2 linked regions of the Homo sapiens genome follow. The protein of the gene in region 1 interacts with the protein of each later gene in a pairwise test. Each region holds a gene or a part of one and is shown in the gene's direction. Other genes may lie near its edges.

What was found. The genes of interacting proteins can lie anywhere in the genome.
Region 2: the proteins of ANKRD28 (region 1) and DOCK1 interact in binary tests that used the Homo sapiens proteins (3 or more experiments, as listed by UniProt).

Annotation. Positions count from the first base shown.
Region 1 is NC_000003.12:15,675,967-15,682,993, reverse strand, and holds part of ANKRD28 (serine/threonine-protein phosphatase 6 regulatory ankyrin repeat subunit A), read left to right. Parts: intron 1-3,430; coding exon 3,431-3,518; intron 3,519-3,609; coding exon 3,610-3,693; intron 3,694-4,639; coding exon 4,640-4,785; intron 4,786-5,366; coding exon of another isoform or gene 5,367-5,380; exon of another isoform or gene 5,381-5,431; coding exon 5,432-5,514; intron 5,515-5,937; coding exon 5,938-6,020; coding exon of another isoform or gene 6,021-6,024; intron 6,025-7,004; coding exon 7,005-7,027. UniProt on the Homo sapiens protein: Regulatory subunit of protein phosphatase 6 (PP6) that may be involved in the recognition of phosphoprotein substrates. Involved in the PP6-mediated dephosphorylation of NFKBIE opposing its degradation in response to TNF-alpha.
Region 2 is NC_000010.11:127,405,401-127,412,427, forward strand, and holds part of DOCK1 (dedicator of cytokinesis protein 1), read left to right. Parts: intron 1-3,636; coding exon 3,637-3,778; intron 3,779-3,912; coding exon 3,913-3,991; intron 3,992-4,854; coding exon of another isoform or gene 4,855-5,016; intron 5,017-5,439; coding exon 5,440-5,524; intron 5,525-7,027. UniProt on the Homo sapiens protein: Involved in cytoskeletal rearrangements required for phagocytosis of apoptotic cells and cell motility. Along with DOCK1, mediates CRK/CRKL regulation of epithelial and endothelial cell spreading and migration on type IV collagen.

The DNA of each region.
Region 1 (7,027 bases):
CACGTTTTGTGCAAGAGACAGAATTTTGCAAGAACTGCATGCCTGGTTGCCATTTAAAGATCATAACAAATGTGTCTGATTTTCAGCCTGTAGCAAAATTGTGGTGATGCTGAATTTGAGCTGGAAGGAATTTAATGTGTGTTGGCTATATGCAATAAGCGACTATATAGACAGCCTAAAATTAATACCATATTTATAGCCAAAAGCCCGTTTTATAATTTGGCATTCTGAAAGTAGAATATGTAAAATGGTTTTTACTTTAACTAGTAATTATTGTACAGCTGGAAAGAAAAGTGGAAGCATGCCAACAGAACAGAAAACAACCTCTTAAAATTAAAATGAAATGATGGCCAAGTTTTAGAAAAACACTGGCTGTAGATACTAAAAGTTCACAATTTCAGTTTATATAGTCATTCAATCACAGAACTTAAGAATACTTATTATTCCTTTAAAAAATGTGTTCATTTTTATGAAGCTCTAAACATCCTCAGACTAGCCTCTGAAACTCAGGAGGACCCAGTTTACCATCCTATCTATCTTTCATAAATGATGATAGAAAGTTATGAGATTGTCTGCTTGATATCACCCAGTAATGATTTCTGGAGGTCACAAAGGGGCCCCACTGTTCCCTTTTCTCAGTCTGTACTCAGATGGTGAGTGGTTCTCAAACCCTTTGGTCTCAGGAACTATGGATTGATACTGACTGTATTAGAAATTGTAATTGAGAAATTTTTAAATACTTACTGATTTATTTAAAAATAATGTCTATTACATGTTAACATAAATAATCTTTTTTTATGAAAACTATTTTCCAAAAGTATTTTCTTTTTAGTGAGAAGAGTAGTACATCTCTTCATAGCTAATTTAAGAGAATAGTTGGGTTCTCATCTGTGTTTTTATTCATATTTTTTTTGCGTCACCCCAGGGTTCCCTAGGCCACACCTTAAGAACCCATATACCTGGAGAATGAGGGGCTCTTAAGTCAACAATGGACAACTTTCCATTGCTGTATCTTAGTAATGAGTTAACATTCAGAACGATGGCATTAAAGGAGTTTCTCAACCTCAGCACTATGACGTTTTGGGCCAGATGATTGTTGCAAGGGACTCTCCAGTGCATTGCAAGATGTTTAGCAGCATCATTGGTTTCTACCCACTAGATGCCAGTTGCACTGCCCCACCTTCAGTTGTGATAAACAAAAATGTCTGTAGGCATTGCCACATACAATATCTGCTGATGGGCAAAATCCACTTGAAAACTACTAGATTAGAGAAAAGAACTGACAAAAGATGGAACACAATTACAGGTTTTTCTAAAAATTACTTTTCCACAATTATAGGGTAAAGTTTAAGCTGATTAAGTTTGAGTAATTTAAAAAGAAAAGAAAATATAACATCACTTTGGTAGGCAAATATTAAACCATGAAAATGTATAAAGAGGCCATGTAAGAATCTTATTCCTAAAGTAGATCCCAAATGACTAATGAAATAAAATAAGCAACATTTTATTTGTAGTAATTAGGGTATTAAATTAAAACCCTGGCTCTGGAATTAGGGTAAGAAAATTTGAAATTTGGATTTTTCTGTTTTTGAAGTTACTGTTAAAAACTATGGACCAGATATTGATGAACAGTCAATACAGTCAGCCCTCCATATCCATGGGTCCCCCATCGGTGAATTCAACTGAATGTCCATCAGAAATATAGTTAGGCTGAACATGTACAGACTTTTTTTTTGTCATTATTCCCTAAACAATACAACAACTATTTATATAGCATTTACATTGAATTAAGTTGTAAGTAATCTAGAGATGACTTAAAGTATATGAGAAGATGTGCATAGGTTATACACAAATAAACCATTTTGTACAAGGGACCTGTATAAGGGACTATGGAGTTTTGCTGTCAGTGGGGAGTCCTGGACCCAATCCCCCAAGAATACCAAGGCTGGATACTTCTCCTTTACCACAGCAATATCACTTTGGTAGGAAATTGTCCTACAAAAATACTTCCTAAAATAAAAACAAAATGTTGGCCGTGGTGGCTTATGCCTGTAATCCCAGCATTTTAGGAGGCTGAGGCAGGCAGATCACTTGAGCTCTGGGATTCAAGACCAGCCTGAGCAACATGGCAAAACTTCATCTCTACAAAATATCAAAAAATTAGCCAGGTGTGGTAGCCTTGCACCTGTTGTCTTAGCAACTCAGGAGGCTGAGGTGGGAGGATCACTTGAGCCCAGGAGGTTGAGACTGCAGAGAGTCATGATCATGCCACTGCACTTCAACTTGGGCAACAGAGCAAGACCCTGTCTCAAAAAATTGTTTTAATAAAATAAAAAAATACCAGAATGTTTCATTACAGCGTTGTTGATAATATCATGAAGAATTTTTTTAAACTAGCAATCACTTTAAAATCCATAATTAGATTAAATAATTTATGATATACTTTGATACTGTGAAGCTCTTCAGAACATTAAAGAATAAGATTTTAGCCGGGCATGGTGGCTCACACCTGTAATCCCAGCACTTTGGGAGACTGAGGCAGGTGGATCACCTGAGATCAGGAGTTTGAGATCAGCCTGACCAACATGGTGAAACCCCGTGTCTACTAAAAATACGAAAAAAGCTAGCTGGGCATGGTGGTGGGCGCCTGTAGTCCAGCTACTTGGGAGGCTGAGACAGGAGAATCACTTGAACCCAGGAGGCAGAGGTTGCAGTGAGCCAAGATCGCGCCACTGCACTCCAGGCTGGGCAACAGAGTGAGACTCCATCTAAAATAATAATAATAATATTTCATATATGCTATTATGGAAGGATATGTGTAGTTAATATTAAGTAAAAGGCAAGTTGCGGAATTAAACATCCCATTGCCATTAAGAAAAAAATAAAAAAATAGCACAGTCATTTCTCGTTTGCTGTTGAGGATTGGTTTCCAGGACCCCTTGTGAATACCAAAACCAACAGGCGCTCAAGTCCCTTATAGAAAATGGGATAGTATTTGCATATAACCTATGCACATTCTCTGCTATACTTTAAATCATCTCTGGATTACTTATAATAACCAATGTAATGTAAATGTTATGTAAATAATTGGTATGCTGTATTTAGGGTATATGACAAGAAAAAAAGTCTGCTCTGTTTTTTTTTTCCCCCAAATATTTTTAATTTGGGGTTGGTTGAATTGATGGATGCAGAACCCACGGATACAGAGAGCCAACTGTATGTATTTTGTGCGTGCAGTTGTATATGCCTAGAAATTTTCAGGAACTACTGGTGGCTTAACAGCTACCAATGGTTATATTCCAGAGAGGGGATCTGGGAGATGGGATGAGGGAGAGACTTTTACATTTTTCCTTTAAACACTTACATGTACCTGTGATTTTTGCCAGTATCTCCTTTGAATTTTAATACCTGGTTCTTTACACCTATTTAGGTCACGAGACATGTGTAGAACTGCTTTTAGAACAGGAAGTTTTCCAGAAAACGGAAGGAAATGCTTTTAGTCCATTGCATTGTGCCGTGTAAGTAAAGCCAGAATGAATCAGATTTGGTTTGAGTGTTTTAAGAAATACACCATTGCTGTGAGAATGATCACCTTGTTACCTTACACAGGATAAATGACAACGAAGGTGCTGCTGAGATGTTAATTGATACATTAGGTGCCAGCATTGTGAACGCCACAGATTCAAAAGGAAGGTAGGAATTCAACTATGTATTAAATAGTTTTAGCCAGGCACAGTGGCTCATGCCTATAATCCTAACAATCTGGGAGGCTGAAGTGGGAGGATGACTTGAAGCCAGGAGTTTAAGACCAGCCTGGTCAACATAGCAAGACCTGCATCTCTACCAAAAAAAAAAAAAGTGCATGATGATGCATGCCTGTGATCCCAGCTGTTCAGGAGGCTGAGGCAGGAGGATCACTTGAGCCCAGGAGTTTGAGGCAACAGTGAGCTATGATTGCACCACTGCATTCCAGCCTGGGTGACAGAGTGAGATCCCGTCTGGGCCCTACCCCCCAAAAAGGTTTTATTTTCAATAAGAAATAAATTTTAACTACTGGCTGGTGTGAGAGAATTTACAGAAAACCCATTATTAAAAGTTGATTTTTATATTTGCGAGTATAAATTGTTATAAGATCTCAATTATTTTTACATTATAAAAGGTTTTTCTATTTATAGATTTTAGGAAGTTTTCCTCCTTTAAACTATTTTAACATGTAAATATTTTTCCCTCTCTTTCGAATTTGTTTCCCAAAGATTATTGTTAACAAAGTTAACAGTTTTCTAAATGGGAATAAAGCCTGGAAAAAAGTCCAGCAGTTGTAATAAGTGGTGGTATTCAGATTAGGATTTATTTCTTTCAAAATTTCCTTTAATGATGTAATGTTATTTTAGCAATTTTGTAATTAATCTTTACTTCATACTAGTTCTAGTTTAATTAAAGCCTTCTGTATTATTGAAAGTACAAATTTCTATGAGAGAAATTAGTAAGCTCCATTGAGCCTATTTGTTTGTGTACAGGCAGTGCTTTTGTAGCCTAATATGTAAACCCTTAAAAACAGCATGTCACAAATTAAAGAATATTTTTCCAGCATATATAACATTCAAATTTAGTCATATATTTCAATTTTTCTTTATCACAGAACTCCTCTCCATGCAGCCGCCTTCACAGACCATGTAGAGTGTTTACAGCTGCTGCTCAGCCATAATGCTCAAGTCAATTCTGTGGACTCTACAGGGAAAACACCTCTTATGATGGCTGCAGAAAATGGACAAACAAATACAGTTGGTAAAGAAACTTCTTTAAAATTGTATTTTCCTAAGTATGTGTATCACTTATGTATAACTTAGATCCCAAGACTTCTGACTTCAACTAGTTATCTTACCACTCCTAAGACTTAAAACCTTTTACCTGTTTGCAATCCACATTTTCATTTAGGGATACAATGTTTTAGTTTGCCCTGACTATTGAGGAGTCTACTTTACCATGGCCTTATAACATAGTGGTTAAGAACACTGGCTGTGGAGTTGGATTGCCTGAATGTGAGTCCTAGATCTTTCAGCTAAATGACCTTATGCCTCAGTTTTCTCATTTATAAAATGAGAAAAATAACAGTATCTACTTGGTGTGTTGTTGTGAGGGTTAAATAAATTACTTTAAATCCAGAGCATATAAAACAGTATTTAAAATTTAGTGCACAGTCACAAAATAAATGTTAATTGCCATTGTTAGAGTGTGTGACTTATACAACAATATAATTGTCTCATACAATTATATGAAGATATATATGTTATATATTACAATATTTTTCTTGTACTTAAGTTTTTGTGAGAGGGACTTTTTTGCTTTGTATCTTCATTTCTCTACAGTGAGTTATTGGTAATCTAAGAAACATGTTCATAAACATAAGAATTGATGCACTTTTTCCTCCCAGAGATGCTGGTTAGCAGTGCTAGTGCAGAACTGACTTTACAAGATAACAGTAAAAATACTGCCCTCCATTTGGCTTGTAGCAAGGTATGTATACATCTTAAGAATATGTTTCCATTGTTAATATTAACAGTGACCTTAAAAGTTTTTTGACTTCACTAAAATGAACAACTCAGGACCAAACCTCTCTAATGATCACTGGTATTAGATTTCTTGAACAAAATTGACTTATAAGGCACCATGGCGTATCAAAGTCTCCAGTAAGCCAAATAAGTTTTGGAACACAAGTCTAAGCATAATTATCCTCTTTCCTTAATCTTAATTTTGTCCTCTTCTCCTACCCTCACTCCCAAGATGTGTTTGGGCAAATATTAAGATATTAGCCAGGAAAATTCATGGTATATGTATGGTGTTGTACATAATATATGGACTAGGATTGCAGATTGTTGGGTGTATAAATGTATCTTTAATGGTGCTCAAGTTTTTATAACTTATCTGCCACAATTATAGGGTCATGAAACTAGTGCCTTGTTAATACTGGAAAAGATAACAGATAGAAACCTCATCAATGCAACCAACGCAGCCTTGCAAACGTGAGTACTGTCAGTATCTAGTATAAACTTTGTGACCTATAATTATAAAAATGATAAATGGATTTTTTTAAACATGTGACTATTGGAATAGGTTTCATTAGTCATAGAAGCAATTTTAATAGTTTTACAACTGTCAAAACTCATTTCTAAAATGATCACAACTAAAAGCCATATTATTTAAAATGCTTTTGAACTGAAATTTTATTATAACATTGACAATAATGTATTTTTTTCCTTAATCCACCTACCTAATTTTCTGAAGGAAAGTAGTACTATTTTGTGTATTCTGTGGAAATCAACTGTAATAATATGTTACTTGAAACTAACAATAAATGAGGTAAGAAGCTTTATGTGTGTCTGTAAGCCAATAAGGTTTCTTAAAGAATCAAAATTTTTAATAATGTGAGCAGCCAACCTCCAGATAGACTGACAGAGATCTTACATCAGTGTCTCTCATTGTCCCTTGCTATTCCATTTTGAGGTTTAGTAAAGATAAAAATCTTAGAATATTGTTGCCCGTTCTGGGATTAGTCAGATCCCTTGAAGGTCCAAAAATTAGTCATGATGCTTGTAAGCTGTTTTCAAAGCCTATTAGAATTTATGCTACTGCAGTTTACAGTTTTTAATGTATAGTCTGTATCTTTACCAGCCTCATTCCTTAACAACGGAGGAATGCAATTTCAATGGTAAAATGTTTTTAAACATTGAAAAGAAAAGTAACAAAAGGATTGGGTGAAGGTAGGGACCTGTCGATGGGACCTATGGCTGAGCTTGATGCCGAGCTACACGTTGACAAGGTGTGACAGTGCACTGCACAGAGGTTCTGCTCTCCCTGCCCCCATCTTTGTTATTAGGACTAGGTTTCTCGAGTTTGTACCTCTTGGTCTTCACAAGTTGACAAAAATGCTCTTTGACAGCCAGGTGTGTATGTGTATGTGCATGCACATGCACATATGTGTACATGTATCATGTTTTTTCCCCTAGACCTCTGCATGTTGCTGCCCGAA
Region 2 (7,027 bases), on another chromosome or scaffold:
CATTGACCAGTGGGTCATGATTTCCTGATATTTCTTATGACTTTTTTTTTTTTTTTTTGGACACTTGGTTTTCTCTTATCCTAGGAGACTATGTGTGATTGCTCTGGCTTTAGGAAGCAGAAGCTCTGTGTCTTGAGCACAGCCGTCTGGGGCAGTTGAAACCAGTTGGGAGATTCCCCTGGTTCCAGACGTTGTTCATTTGGGGTCCTGTGTTTCCGACTCCACGGGAGTCACTAATAGTGTGACATCTCTTCATCACGGCACCCAGAGGATACAGACCTCCCCTTAGGAAGGGCATGTCACTGTTGACAGGGGAGCACCACAGTTCTGGCCTGCTCTAGGAGGTGAGGCTGGCTGCCCACTCAGTGTCCTGCCTGGTGACGGAGGCGTCTGGCCCTGTCCTGGTCACTCCTGGTCACTGCTGGTCAGCTTCTCCTCTTGCCTTCATCGTGCAGCAAAGACAGCGGTTGATCAGAAGCACAGATTCTGAACAAAGTCTTCCCTTCCAAAGAATGAATAAAGGAGGCTTAGTTACAAGCTCTAAATTAGAGACAAATTTGAAATTAGCTTCATTCTCAATAAAAAACAAAGCTGAAGGGTGGAATGAGCTTGGAGTTAAAGCCACTTACTGTTGCTAAAGGCTTTAATTCGAGTGTGTGTGTGCTCCGGAACATACATCTTTAGGAAAGGGAGGCAGGTGGACCCTAAGCCATGCAGCCTTGTGCAGTGCTTGGTGTTAGATGGTGCGTGTGGCCCCTGTGGATGGAGATCTACCTCTGGTATGTAGGCACCAACTCTGGATCCGTGCAGGATGGTTATCCCAGAATCCAGAGCAAGGGAGCAGCCTGCGTGGAATATTATGTGAGGGCAGTGCCGGGTGCGGAGGACACGTTGCAGCTCCCGAGCCAATAGATGCCAGGTTGTGCCAGGAGCTCACACACAGCAGGCTCCAGGGGCGGTGCTGGGTCATCTCCACCACCAAAAGGACAAAATGAAAAGTCTGAATGGAGGTTAACAGGCTCGATTAATATTGAACTGACTTTCCCGCCACACCTGGATCATTCTGTGGGTCTGCAGCAATATATTTATCACACTTCACAGATGAGCTGGCAGGGGTCAATCTGCCAATGACACTGGCAGTTACCAAAACGTGGGCAGAATGTTTGCGTGCTTCATGCCCTGCTGGAGAGGAGCCTCCAAGAACTGACTAGCTGTCCCTTTTGCTTTGTTTTTCTCTAAAAATTGGTCTCACTGTTTTTTGTGCTCATGTTGATATTTATAGACCTTACAAGGAATAAATATCTTTGACTATATGTACATTTCCCCCTTGTTTTCATGTTCAAAAGGATCACTTCAGAATGCAAAGTAACTGACATTTTCAGAAAATGTTATTCGTGTTTTTACCTATAACTCACTAGCTTTTTTCTATTAAAGTCTTTATATACATTTTTATTATTATGTTTTCTCATGTAAAGCATAAGAAAAATGCTTGCTAGTTTGATAGTAGTCTGTTATCCATTAAATCTTACTGAATTTTGGAAGTGCGTGGCTTTATATAGAAGCCTTAGAAGTTGCTCAGACTGTATTTAAGATGACATATTATCTGGTTTCTGCTTGACTTTTTTTTTTCGGGGGGGCGGTGGGGAGAAATAGAGCATTTTTCTTCCATAATGGTACTTCTAAGACATATCTAAGCACAAAGTGAAAAAGAATTCAATTCTTAAACTGGTTCTTTTTTTAGCGATTTAGGAGAACTCAGAATAAGCTGGGGCAAGGGAAGGGGACTGTCTTAGTCCACTGGGGCTGCTGTAACAAAATACCTTAGACTGGGTACTTTATAAACAACAGGAATGTATTGTTCACAGTTCCGGAGGCTGGGAAGTCCAAGATCAAGGTGCCAGCAGATTTGGAGTCTGGGGAGGGCCATTCCTCATAGATGGCGCCTTCCACCTGTTCTCATGGGGTGGAAAGGGCAGGCAGCTCTCTGGGGCCTCTTTTCTGAGGCACTGATGACTTTCCTAAGGGTGGAGCCTTTCCAGAGGCCCCACCTTCTAATACTATCACCTTGGTGATTAGGTTTCAACATCTGAATTTTGGGGACTACAAACGTTCTGACCACAGCAGGGATCAATTGATTCAGTGTCATAGAATCTCTCTTAATCCTTTTGAAAATCCTTTAGTTAGACAAATTTTAATTTGACTTCAATCTTAGTCTTTAGGGGGTAAGTGTAAAAATATGCAGCAAAATGCTGTCCTCTCTGTCTGTCTCTGTCTCTGTTCGTCTCCCTCTCTGGCACCTGTCCAGGAATGACTGCAGATGGGGCAGGGCTGCAGCTGACTTGGGAGCAGCCAACCTGGAGGTTCTTCCCCCGTGTCCCCTGATCAAAGAACAGAAGCACCTCAGCAACCACGCCCCGTCCTGGAAAGTGTTACCCCCCCAACCCCAGACTTCTGTTTCTTGTACCCCTGTGGCTTCTGCTCGCTGTCTTCTCCTTGTGGCAGTTTTCATTTCGGTTGAGACAGCCCCAGATGGGACAGGATGGGTGGGGGGAGGCAGAAGGCTTCCAAAACCAGCAGCAGCATTACACTAGGTACTCATTGGCCCCTTTCTGTGACCGAGTTCACACTCAGAACACACGTGTTGAAATCGGGAAAAAAACGGAGACCTGTTGTATCTTGCAAGGAAAACGTTCCTTACAGGTATATTTACAGAGGACTGTGTCACACTCAGGCAGAAATGACCTCAACAAGACAGCCTCGTGGAAGGAAGAACACTTACCTACTTAACTCCCCTCCCCGCCCCGGACTGCCTAGTCTAGCCTAGCCGTCTATAACAACCCCAGTGGACTGACATTCCATCTTGGAATTTATGGAGGTGACAAAAGTGTCATTTGAGATGGACCAAACCCAGCCCTTCCAAGAAGAGCTCTGTATGTTTTATCTTGACATGTGTTGATGAATAATGACCTGCACACACATTCTGAATGCAGGAAGGGAAGTCCTGCTCTCCGTCCATCGCCAGTCACTCACTCGGGGGAGGCCAGGAACTTAGTAGCTCTCGGCTCTGGTCTGCATCCCTTCCCCTCGGGTTCTGCTCGCCTCGGCTGTGTCTCACAGGAGTCAGCGCCCGGCGGCCGTGTGCAGGTGCTGGGGCCCCACCTTAGCTCAAGCTCTCTTAAATTCCTTATGGCAGAATGAAAACAACTTCATTAGGGCCTACCTGAGAAGAAAACAAAAACAAGAAAAAGTGTGGACATCATTATCCACTTGTCCTGGCTGCCTTGCCCCCTTCTAACCATTTCATGCCCATTCTAGTGTGGGCTTCTGAGTGCTCATTTGGTTTTTCATATAGTTTTTAAATCAGTTGTTACTGTCAAGATGAAAACATATCACAGATGTTAGTAGCGCAGTGCTGAGTGCTTCTTAAACAGTATTAACTTACATGCTTGATGACCATGTGTTCTTGATTAACAAAGCCAACGCAAGTACAAAAAAAAATAAAAATTACAAGTTGTTCTTAAATTTAATGACATTTTGTAAGAACCCGTAAGGCATATTTTAAGGCCAGCATATTGCATGTGAACTCTTCCTGGCCCTTTCTCTGTGGTGTTATGAAATGAATGTCACCCTTTTCAGGGAAAAGTTTTCATTTACCGAGGGAAAGAGTATGAGCGCCGGGAAGATTTTGAGGCTCGGCTCTTAACTCAGTTTCCAAACGCCGAGAAAATGAAGACAACATCTCCACCAGGCGACGATATTAAAAACTCTCCTGGCCAGTGTATCCTTTAAGACAACCTCATCAACTCTGAAACCATGGTGATGCCATTCATTTGGGTGGTTGGGTGTGGTGGGGGGCCTCTCTCATGGTTGATGTCTATGCTGCCTTAGTGATCCTTAACCCCCTCACCTCAGATATTCAGTGCTTCACAGTGAAGCCCAAACTCGATCTGCCTCCTAAGTTTCACAGGCCAGTGTCAGAGCAGATTGTAAGGTAATAATCCCATTTTTCTTACCCAACGTGAGGGTTGTAAGAGGCTGTGTACAGATCTCTTGCTAATAATTCCACCTTTTAAAGGACGGACTTTGGCCATGGATTCGCTTTCCAAATGCTCTTTCTGTCCTCTTTGAAGAGCAAGGGAAGCTAATTATTTTCAGCATCCAAAAAAAGTGACAGGAGATGTTAATCCATGTGCTGGGAGCGTGCAAAGCCTATTCCTTTCCCAAAGTCAGCTGACAGCAAAAACCTAAGAGGGCAGTGGAGGCCGTCTGGTCTCCTTTATAGACCTGCCCTGTGGGGTACAATCCCCTAGGGAACTTCACAGCAGTGCACAAGTCCTGCCTGTTCCCAGCAAAGCCAAGTTCATACATGTGAGTGTGGCCTGAATGTTTGCATTTTAGAAGGCGGGAAATGGGATTTGCACATTTGCTCCTGGTGACACACAGGAGAACCCTTCAGCCTTACAGCACAGCAATTCCATAATGTAGGGTTATGAGGGGGCTTTTAAACCTCCTGAGTCAACTGTCCATATTTGAGTGAGATTTTCTGCCTGTCAGTTGTATCGCACCTGACTTAGCAATGGCATAGAAAGACCTGCTTTAGCAGATGTGTTTGATATTAAGACTTTTCTGTTCTGTTTGATCCATGTTCTGGTGAAAATATTAATCTCTTTGATGACCTCATATTCCTTAGGATCAGCTTCATTTTGCTTCCTGAAGTTTGGTGGTTTCTTTAACCTTTCATCGTTTCTTTGACCTTGCATCAGCAATAATGGGAAATAAACTGGGACCCTGTTTATTTACAAATGATTGCTCTCGCAAGGCATACATTTTAAGGGTTGCAACATTTTTTTTCAGAGGCCTTAAGCAAATAGTGACGCTTAGAGCCTTCTCAGATGCAGTAGTTTCTTTTGCTGTGGAAGCCTGCCTGCATTTCAGTGCAGGGGAGAAATCAGTCTCAGTCTCTCCACGCCCTGCCCTGTGCATGCGGAAAGCCTGCCTCGTACCCCGACCGCGGAGGCAGGTTACTTATGTTTCCTGTGTGTCACTCTTGGGGTGGTTGCAAAATCTGTGCTTTGTAGATCTGAAACTAAGGTATGTAATACTTTTTTAAAATAATAATAAACACATACGTTGAACACAAAAGCTTTTTTCTCTCTCCTTCGCTTCACCTTTCCTCTGTTTTTGCTCATTTCACTCTTACTCAGCTTCTGTTTTCCCTCGAGGGTTGGCAGGGACAGGGAAGAGGCAAAAACTCAAGTTAATTTTTCCACCTGCCAACATTTCCCTGGCTGGGAGAGGACACCAAGGCGATGGCTTCAGGTCAAGGTTAGGGACATTTTACAGGAGGCAGTGACATGTTCTAAGGCCAGACCCCGTGTCCAAAAGCAAATTGGCTATTTGCCGGGTTAAATATCTAATGATCTGTCTGTCTCTGTACAGTTTTTACAGGGTGAACGAGGTCCAGCGATTTGAATATTCTCGGCCAATCCGGAAGGGAGAGAAAAACCCAGACAATGAATTTGCGGTAAAAAACAAACAAACCACCAAACCAAACAACAAAAAATATCATTCCGCCACCAGTAGAACTGCCACTGGAGAAGCGTGGCCTCAGAGGCAGCCACGGAGCCATATTAAATGTCTTTGTGTATTATGTGCAGAAATCTTAATCTATTACCCCCTCCAAAGTTAGAAAAACTAATTGCCATTTCACTAACAATATGACTAAGGTCACTGAGATATTTAATAAGGAGACTGTGCCGTCCAAATGCCGGAGCTCCCATATGAGTAGCGCACTGCCTTCCCTGCGAGCCCCAGGTGAGAGAGCAGGTGCCTGTCATCTCTAGTTAAAAATGGACCCACCGAGTGCTGAGGTGCGGGGTGCTGACGTGGCTTTCTGCAGGTGACACAGCAGTCAGCACATGAACTGGATCTGGACCCGGGTGCTCATTCCTCATTCAGTATCCAGCACCTGAACTTCAGTGGAGCACAACACACAACTGCAGGGTTGACCCCAGCACTACTAGCAATACGGACCGGGTTATTCTCTGTGGTGGGGACCATCCAGTGCATCCAGGGATGTTTGGCAGCATCCCTGAACACTGCCTACTAGGTGCCAGTGCCACCACCCCAGTTGGGACAACCAATCAAAAAGATTTCCAGGCCAGGCATGGTGGCTCACACCTGTAATCCCAACACTTTGGGAGGCTGAGGCAGGTAGATCAAATTAGTTCAGGAGTTCGAGACCAGCCTGACCAACATGGTAAAACACTGTCTCTACTAAAAGTACAACATTAGCCGGGCGTGGTGGTGCACGCCTGTAATCCCAGCTATTTGGGAGGCTGAGGCGGGAGAATCGCTTGAACCCAGGAGGCAGAGGTTGCAGTGAGCCAAGATCGCTCCATTGCACTCCAGCCTGGGGAACGAGAGTGAAACTCCATCAAAAAAATAAAGTTTCCAGACATTGCAAAATAAAACATCTGCCCCTTGTTGCAAACCACGGCATTCGAGTTGTAGAAATAACAGCAAACATCTTTAGAGCCTTTTTTCTTTATTTTTTTATTTTTATTTGTTTATTTTTTTTGAGACAGAGCCTCGCTCTGTCGCCCAAGCTGGAATGCAGTGCCATGATCTCAGCTCACTGCAAGCTCCGCCTCCCAGGTTCACGCCATTCTCCTGCCTCACCCTCCCAAGTAGCTGGGACTACAGGTGCCCGCCACTACGCCCGGCTAATTTTTTGTATTTTTAGTAGAGACGGGGTTTCACGGTGTTAGCCAGAATGGTCTCGATCTCCTGACCTCGTGATCCCCCCGCCTCAGCCTCCCAAAGTGCTGGGATTACAGGCGTGAGCCACCGCGCCTGGCCCTAGAGCCTTTTAAAAATTCTACATACAAACTGCTTTCATGGATTCATTTGTATTTTTATTTTATTTATTTTTTTATATAGAGGTGGGGTCTATGTTGCTCAGGCTGGTCTTGAACTCCTGGGCTCAAGTGAGTGGATCCATGTTGAAAAGGCATCAAATAAGCCA